Linked DNA regions of Homo sapiens. The protein of the gene in region 1 purifies or fractionates together with the protein of each later gene. This does not show direct contact. Each region holds a gene or a part of one and is shown in the gene's direction. Other genes may lie near its edges.

Region 1 (4,619 bases):
ACTGCAAAGTAAAAATGTCTATATCTTACTGAAATTTAATAATCTGGATTATATCATTTAAATGTCATACTTATGTATGCTTACTAAGTATACTTATTAAGTATAATACTTAGTAAGCATACATAATAAATATGATATATGTATACATATTAAGTATACTTATTAAGTATAATACTTAGTAAGTATACTTATTAGTAACTTTACATAAGTATGACATTTTCACCTTGCAGTTTCATTTTTTATTTTTGAAGACCTGGAAAAAAATTTTACTTTAAAAGAAGTATGCTATGATAGATTTCTAATTTTCTTGATTCCTTAAAATCTTAAATTCTTTAATTTTGTTAAGTCAATTTTTAAAAGGAGTAAAAAATACTTGAGAAATTTTCTGGGGATACGATATGTGCATTGAAATAAAGATATTTGGCTAGAAACCTCAAGGATTAGAATTTGATCTCTTGCTAGAGGTTTTTGTACTGAAGTTTCTTGGTACCAGCGCTGCTTCCTGTGTGGGATGTAGAAAATCGTACTTAATGTTTCTACGTCTTGCATCACTAGTGGAAGAATTAGAACGGCTGGAAATCTGGAATGGCTGTTTCATGATACCAGTAACTCATCAGAATTGAAATTTGTATGATTATTAGAAATTTTTTGCTGCTCTGGATTTTGTGTGAGGAAGTGCCCTGGCTTCATTTATGTTGAGTTTACATGAAGAACTTACTAGAACAGAGGAAAACTCATGAAGTGTGAGACCACTCCTGTGTGTAAGATGAGCCTATTCAAGTCAGCAGTAGTTCCCATGATAAAGGGATATGTGGTAATGTCTTCCTTTGGGAGTTAATGTCTCCCTAATGCAGGGCTTTATTTTTCTTTTTAATTGGTAGCTGTATCGGTGAGTCTTTCAGCACCTGAATTGAAAACCAGCACATACGTAGGAACATCTAGTTTTTAGTCATCAAAAAAGCCAGTGTGATACTAAATTAAAATGTACATTGTAGAAGTAAAAACAGGACTCGAAGATGATTAACCTGGGCAGCAAGTTGAGTCCTTGTACCTCCAGTGTTTCTCATACTGCATTTTAAAATTAATTCCATGAATTTGAGAGATATTTTTTAAGTGACTGGAAATCTTTGCAATTCATTTTTCATAAGATCACAAAAATTAAATAGGATGAGTCTGGATCATCTAGAATGAAACTTTAAAGGAGCGAAAAGAAAGGCAAATGATGTTTGCAAGTGACTAATACTTAAAGAGCCAGGCTGCTTAATGTTTCGGTCAAGAAAATCCCATAAATGCAACAATATTTTAATAATAGAAAAAACCAACTTGGTCTCGAAGGTAAAAGTTTGGGGTTTTAAAAACCATTATCTTCAAAGAATCAGTTAACTATTAAACTCTGTTTAAAACAGGCATTATGTATTGACTCTACCATAATCTTTATTTATGTCTAGATTTAGGTAGGTAAAATATGGTATCTTTGAGAAAATGAAGTATTTCCTTTTAAGCAAATGTTCTCAAAATTTCCAAGGGTAAGTGAAGTGATTATTATATTACTTATAATGGTTAAGGCAGCATTCAAAAGATGACAGTTTTAAAAAGGAGTAGGTGGAGAATATGTACTTTTAAAGAACTTCTTGCTTTTCTAAGATGAACATTTTAAAGATATATTTTGGATACAAGTTGCCTTGTAATTTTCACCAGGACATGAAAAGTTTTTATTAGGTTGTTTCTTTGTATGCTAATGTATCATGTTGATACCTTTATAGGTATTCTTTTTTTTTTTTTTTTTTTTTTGAGATGGAGTCTCACTCTGTCTTCCAGGCTGGCACTCAGCTCACTGCAACCTCCGCCTTCCGGGTTCAAGCGATTCTCCTGCCTCAGCCTCCTGAGTAGCTGGGATTACAGGGATGTGCCACCACGCCCAGCTAATTTTTTATTTTAGTAGAGATGGGGTTTCACCGTCTTGGCCAGGCAGATTTTGAACTCCTGACCTTATGTGATCCACCCACTTTGGCCTCCTAAAGTGCTGGAATTACAGGCATGAGCCACCACACCGGGCCAGTATTCTTAAGCTTTCTGACTGGCATGGCCCAATTTAAGATCTGATGTCCCTAAGGCAACTTGACCAGAACTCTGGATAGGGGCTTCTAGGAAAATAAAGTGACCTGGAATATGTGTGTCACCTTTTGATTTGCATTTACTTAGGTGTACTCTCCTTTTTTCATAGTTGGCACACAGCGAGCTAGCCCTGAGAATATGGGTTTTGAGGTTAGCCAGACTAAATCCTTCTGATACATTATCAATTTTTACTCCTATTCAGAATATCAGGGACTATTTTAGGAAATATTCTGTTTCAAAAGGTTATCTTTGTGGTAACTTTGTACTTTTAAAATCTTGCCACAATAATTTTGATTTATAGCACACGTGTAATATTAACCACTCTTTCCTTCTTAGATCCATGTTCACTAGCGGCCTTACAGAAAGTACTCAAAAAGAAGTTCGAATAGTTGGTGTTGAAGCTGAATCGATGGATTTAGTGTTGAACTATGCCTACACTTCCAGAGTTATTCTTACAGAGGCCAATGTTCAAGCCTTGTTCACTGCAGCTAGCATCTTCCAGATTCCTTCCATCCAAGACCAATGTGCTAAGTATATGATCAGTCATTTGGACCCACAGAATTCTATTGGGGTCTTTATCTTTGCTGATCATTATGGTCATCAGGAACTCGGAGATCGATCAAAAGAATACATTCGTAAAAAGTTTCTGTGTGTCACCAAAGAACAAGAGTTTCTCCAGTTGACAAAAGACCAACTGATAAGTATACTAGACAGTGACGATTTAAATGTAGACCGAGAAGAGCATGTTTATGAAAGCATTATAAGGTGGTTTGAGCATGAACAGAATGAAAGAGAAGTGCACCTTCCAGAAATTTTTGCTAAATGCATACGTTTTCCTCTGATGGAAGATACCTTTATAGAGAAAATTCCACCTCAGTTTGCACAGGCTATAGCCAAAAGCTGTGTAGAAAAGGGACCATCCAACACCAATGGCTGTACACAGAGGCTTGGAATGACTGCTTCTGAAATGATCATATGTTTTGATGCTGCCCACAAACACTCAGGAAAGAAGCAAACAGTGCCTTGTCTAGATATAGTCACAGGAAGGGTGTTTAAACTATGCAAACCACCAAATGACCTGAGAGAAGTTGGGATTCTTGTATCACCAGATAATGACATTTACATTGCAGGAGGGTACAGGCCAAGCAGCAGTGAGGTCTCCATCGACCATAAGGCAGAAAATGATTTCTGGATGTATGATCATTCCACCAATAGATGGCTATCCAAACCATCCTTGCTTCGAGCCAGAATAGGCTGCAAACTTGTCTATTGCTGTGGTAAAATGTATGCAATCGGAGGTCGTGTTTATGAAGGTGATGGGAGAAACTCACTAAAATCTGTTGAGTGCTACGACAGTAGAGAGAATTGTTGGACGACTGTTTGCGCGATGCCAGTTGCAATGGAATTTCATAATGCTGTGGAGTACAAAGAGAAGATCTATGTTTTACAGGGTAGGTGCCTAAGTGATTTAGTTTTTCATGGAAGGGTAACACATCAAGTGGTGGTTTACTTAATTATACTGAAACAGTTGTGTTCCCGTTAATTGAGGAATACCTCCAGCTTCCTTATCAAACTATTGGAACAGTCTGTTCTGTAAAGAGCTATAAAGAAAATAAACTCTTGAATTAAAAAAAGGCAGGTATTGTTAAATTACTAAAATAATCCTATAATTTTTAATGATTTTGTGTCTTGATATCATGTAGAATAACTATTTTTGAAAACATTCTTTAATAAATAATAGTTCGGCATTTTGGGATAACTATTTCAGAGTAGTTTGTAGGACTTGAAATAAATAGCAAGGTTGTTACATGGCTGTTTTTGCTCTTGAGTAAAATTGAGATGTTGTAGCAACTGGTATTCTGTGGAATTTACTGGATTAGTTTAAAAGAGAAAAGAACAAAGCATTAATTAAGTTATACTATTTAGTTACCAAAGAGTTTTATATAAGCCTTATTATTGCAAAAATTATGAAATTTAATTACAAAGAGTTTGGAAGTATGGTCTTCAAGTTTCACCTTCACTGCTGTTTATGTTGCCTTTCATAATACATTTTCAATTTTTTTCACCGGAAAACTTTGAGATGTCCCTTTTTTTTGGTTTGCCATTTTAAGTGGGACTATCTGATATATGTAGTGTTTGTTTTGTTTTGTTTTCTGTTTGTTTTTTTAACTGTTAAGGACTACTACTTTGGCAAAAATACAGTAGAGGTAGAGTGACTGAGTCAGAGTAAATAAGACATTTGATTCAAGGCTCTGATTTGTGATAACTATTTTCCTTTTATTTGGTTTCTTACACATTTTAGTTGCTTGAATGTTTAATGCAGTGTAGATAATAGCAACATCCTTATTCCTCGTATGTGTCTCTTAATTGATGTTTTTCTCACACTACTACTTAAGGAAAAGGAGCAGCTTCTATGAAGATATACAGTCATGTGCCATGTAATGTTTTGGTCAATGATGGATCACATACACAATGGTGGTCCTATAAGATTATGATAGCATATT
Region 2 (4,678 bases), on another chromosome or scaffold:
CTGGGACTACAGGCACTCGTCACTGCGTTTGGCTAATTTGTGTATTTTTAGTAGAGATGGGGTTTCACCATGTTGGCCAGGCTGTTCTCAAACTCCTGGACTCAAGCGATCCACTTATCTCAGCCTCCCAAAGTGCTGGGATTACAGGTGTGAGCCACCGCACCCGGCTAGACCCTCTCTCTCTTAAAAGACAAAAAAATTAAAAACCAAGTTTAAAAATGTTGTATTGAGTTTTTAGGATGTGAATATATATTTATTTCCTACATAAACATCTACTGGAATATGTCAAAATGAGGATTCTTGTTTTTGTTTTTGACTTATGGGTATCACAATCTATGAACCTCCTTAAGAGGGGAAAGGGAAAACGCTAAGTTTGGGGAAAGCCTTTAGAACAAGTCTAGCCAGTAAAGGTTTGCTGCATTATCCATCTGAGTCATTAACTTTGTCAATAGTTATATTCTGTCACTCATTCATTGATTCATTCATCCCTTCCAAAAATATTTTTGGAAAATTCACTTCAGGCCAACTTCTGTTGCTAACCTTGAGGGGACATGGTAAATGAAATACGTTCCCCTCCTGCGAGAAGCCAACATTTTAGGGGGGAAAATGAAGGCCGACTGTGGTAGGTGCTTCGATGGAACTAGGAGCTGGTGACAGAGGCTAACTTCAGAGAAAAGCTAGCCCCGGGTGGGAGGCAGGATCCTCGCGCGGATAGCAAGGTATTCGCACCCTCGGTCTGCACTGCGCAGTCGGGCGCCAGAAACCCTCCAGGCCCCAGCCGGGTCCGAGGGAGAAGGGTGCGGTTGGATTCAACACCCGCCCCAGGGAAAGAAGGTGAGTCTATTCGGTTTGCAAGAAAGGTCTCGCGTGTTATCTTGGGCGGGGGGATGATACGATCGTATTCTAATTATCGGCCCCCAGTGGATCTGTCCCGCGTCCTAGCTGCTGCGGCGTTCAGTGGGCACGTAAGAGACACCTGAGGAGGACACTAAACCAACATTAAGGCAGCAGACAAGGGAAGCCGCCGAGGCTAGGAAATCAAAGTGGACCGCGCTGGGCTGGGGACGGGCTGGGGACGCACTGGGGCGGAGGACCAGGGCACAGGCGAGCTAGCGGAGGAGTCGGCTGAGGCCATTCAGCCGCTGATTTTCGTCCTGGAACGGACTTCGCGTAAACACACCGAGCCATTCAGAGCTCTCTCCAAGTCACATTCTGAGGCTCCGGCCCCGGAACTCTGGGCTAGACGACCCCGCCCCGGAACCTTGTGTTACCGGCACTAAATGCAGAAGTTCCTCTGGTTGCCACCGGACGCAACTGTCAGGTGACGCTTCCGGCGCAGAAAAATGGCAGCCGCCGCTCCGGACTCACGTGTGAGTGAGGAAGAAAACCTGAAAAAGACCCCAAAGAAGAAGATGAAAATGGTAACTGGAGCCGTAGCGTCGGTGCTGGAAGACGAGGCCACAGACACTTCTGATAGTGAAGGTAATGTGGTAGGGCTGAGCTTTGGTGTCTGGGAGGAAAGGCGGGGCTGAGTTCGTGTCAAGCAGCGCTTGCGACTTCATTTGCTGCTAGCCACCTGGGTTTTATCTTGGCACCACTTCAGAGGGGCGACTTTGGCTTAGTGAGGAGGCTTGGGGAAGTCGTGTTCAGAGAAGTAACGCTGTCAACTGTAATTTTGAGTTTCCACATTCTTTTACTAGGTATTTTCAGGGTCACCATTATTAATTATAATAAAATGGGTGAAACACCTGCAGCTACCGAGAAACTTACAGTAGCAAAGGGTGAAAGGAAGAGGGTACTTGAAAACAGGAGAAGAATGGGTCTCATAGGGTGTAAGAAGCAAAAGGTTAAAAGAGGTAAGAGGAAGAAGGGGGTGTACTTGACTTTTTGTGCGGTAGATGTGTGCGTGTTTTAGAGACTAAATAATAGTGAATGAAAGAAGAGTTTGGTGGTTAAGGTCGATTAAAAACTGGTAGTGTTTGATAACTATGTCTCTCAGAGACGCTTGATAATAAAAGGAAGGAAGGATGTGTTTTTGAGGCTTTCAACCATGCTGTGTCTGTTGCTCCTCTTTACCATCATTCTTGGCACCAGCTTATTAGGTTACAAGGAATTGCAGGTAATCCCTGACTTCCTACTGCCCAGTTATTGCTCCTTTGTACCAGCTGATACCCAAAAAACAGACAGAGCTATTCTTTTATAACGTATTTCTAATTATGCCCGCTGTCTGTTTGAGATGATCCAGTGGCTTCTCATCTCAGTATATAATATCCAAAATCCTTAGGCTGTATGATTTGGGCCAGGTTGTCTGTCATAGGCCAATATGCCCCTCACAAACCACTAACTGTAATCATGCCATACCGGTATGCTTGTGTTTAACACCTTAAACATGCTCCCACACCATGGTTTCTTCATTTGTTGGCTCCGCTGCCTAGAATAGTTTTCAAATGCTTGGCATGTCTCTCCCTCACCAGCCTCTGATCCAGTGCCTTACCAGAGAGACTTGTCCCTGACTACCCTATGTAACGTACCACCACTACTCTTCTTCCTGCCTTCTTTTCTTCACTTTTTGACTTATTGCCCTGCTTTATTTTTTCTCAACCCTGCCCAAACCATTTGATGTATGTATTTGCTGCTTTCCCAATTGGAATATAAGTTCCATAAAAATAGAGCCTACTGTATCCCCAGTTCCTATTGCCTTGTGGGTCCTTCACAGATATTTAAGTAAATGAATGAATTAACCTGGACTTCCAGGACCAAGAAGAAAGTGTCATATGCTACTGCAATTCCTAGGTAATTAGAGTCTTCATCTCCTGCCACATTGTTAAGGAAAACAAACTATTTGTTGGGCCAAAATTAGAACTTCTGGTTCTGATATTTTTTAAATTCATTAGACTAGTTCAAACACTATTGTTCAAGAAGGGAAGAGTACTATATTTGCTATATTTGGAGCAAAATGTCAGTACTGCTTACAAATTGGATTTTTCTTTTTCTTTTTGAGACAGGGTCTTGCTTTGCCACCCAGGCTAGAGTGCAGTGGCACAAACAGGGCTCACTGCAACCTTGACCTCCTCCCCCACCGCCCCCCAAAGCGATCCTCTTGCTTCAGCTTCCCCAGGTAGCTAGGACTACAGGCGCATACCACTGTACCTGGCTAATTTTTTTTTTCTTTTTTTTTTTTTTTTTTGGTAGAGATGGGATTTTGCCATGTTGCCCAGGCATGTCTCGAACTCCTAGGTTCAAGTGATCCACCCGTCTCGGCCTCCCAAAGTGCTGAGATTACAGGTGTGAGCCAGCACACCTGGCCAAATTGGATTTTTCTATTCAAATACTGGATAATTCCAAGTTGGAACTGTTCTGACTTTTCAGCGTATTATTATAAATGCTGATTAGGTTTTAAGGTTCTCTTGCTGTTATAGATCAGCCACATTACGGGTTAAAAAGGTTTTTGGCCAATATGGAAACCTAATTTATCTAATTCAATTCAATGAACACTTGTTGTGTTCCCTTAGGTTCCAGTCACCCTCTAGGTGTTGAGGATACAAAGGATGAATATATTTCTGCATTAAAATTTCAGTTTTAGGAAAGATATTAAACACAGGACTGTAATATAGTGTATTAGTATAATTAAAAGGTAGTTTTCAAGATCATGGTTCAATTTTGGAAAGGTAAGGATGGAGACAGAGAAATTCATATCCTCTGGAACCCAGCCTAGGCGTTGCTTACTTATATCTTACGTGTATTATTGATAATATACTATGTTATTATATTTTAACATATCTCTCTCCTTATAGAGATAAGTTCCCCAAATGTCAAAAGTATGTCTTGTTTATTTTCACAGGGTCTTCTTTGCATACTTTAGTATTCAGTAAATTGTTTTGTTGAATAAATGTATAAGGTGGCATTCTATCTAGGCTTTAGAAGGATGAATAGTTTTCCTGACCTGGGAGTATAGAGGGCAGTTTTCTCAGACATAAAAGCATATACAGTGGCATGCGGTCTCTTAAAATTCATGGCCTATTTCAGACAAAGTAATCTTCTGTTATGGCTCCAGCTGTTCAGAGAAGTGACTAGAAGTAAAACTGGAAACAATGGTTAAAAGTAGATTATAAAGGGCCTTGTGTATTTGTAGGCAGCAGGGAGCTATTGAGAACTTTTAAGCAAGATGGTGACAGTTGTTTATAAATATTACTGCCAGATGTACGGTGACTGCCAAAGAGTGCCAGGACAGTTTGTAGGCAATTGCAAAATTCTATGTTAGGATCTGCACTAGGACACAGCAGTGAAGACAGAGAAGGGCCCCACTTGAAATATTTTTCAAAAAGAAAGTATTCAATTTTGCAAACAGGCAACTTTCATGTGAGCTTATAGCACCATAGGTTTTGGGCATACTACACTGTTAGAGGAATTGGATAATAACAATAGTTATACTTTTGGAACTTTCCTATGTGCCTGGTTCTGTTCTGAGTTCCTTCTATATATCAGCTCAGAGAATTCTGACAACTCTATGAGATAGATGCTGCTATTATCCTCCTGTTACATTTAAAAAACTGAGGCACAGAGGCTTATAACTTGCCCACTTCTGTACATAAGCAGATAAGCAAGTTGATAAATGATACAACAATTATTGAAGTTTGATTGTAGAGCTTATGCTCTTGACCACTACCTTAATATGTTT

What was found. The genes of interacting proteins can lie anywhere in the genome.
Region 2: the proteins of KBTBD8 (region 1) and RRP15 purify together in Homo sapiens (affinity purification with western blotting; one study listed by BioGRID). This does not show direct contact.

The regions. Positions count from the first base shown.
Region 1 is NC_000003.12:67,000,744-67,005,362, forward strand, and holds part of KBTBD8 (kelch repeat and BTB domain-containing protein 8), read left to right. Parts: intron 1-2,451; coding exon 2,452-3,566; intron 3,567-4,619. UniProt on the Homo sapiens protein: Substrate-specific adapter of a BCR (BTB-CUL3-RBX1) E3 ubiquitin ligase complex that acts as a regulator of neural crest specification.
Region 2 is NC_000001.11:218,283,974-218,288,651, forward strand, and holds the start of RRP15 (RRP15-like protein), read left to right. Parts: upstream 1-1,319; 5' UTR 1,320-1,343; coding exon 1,344-1,482; intron 1,483-4,678.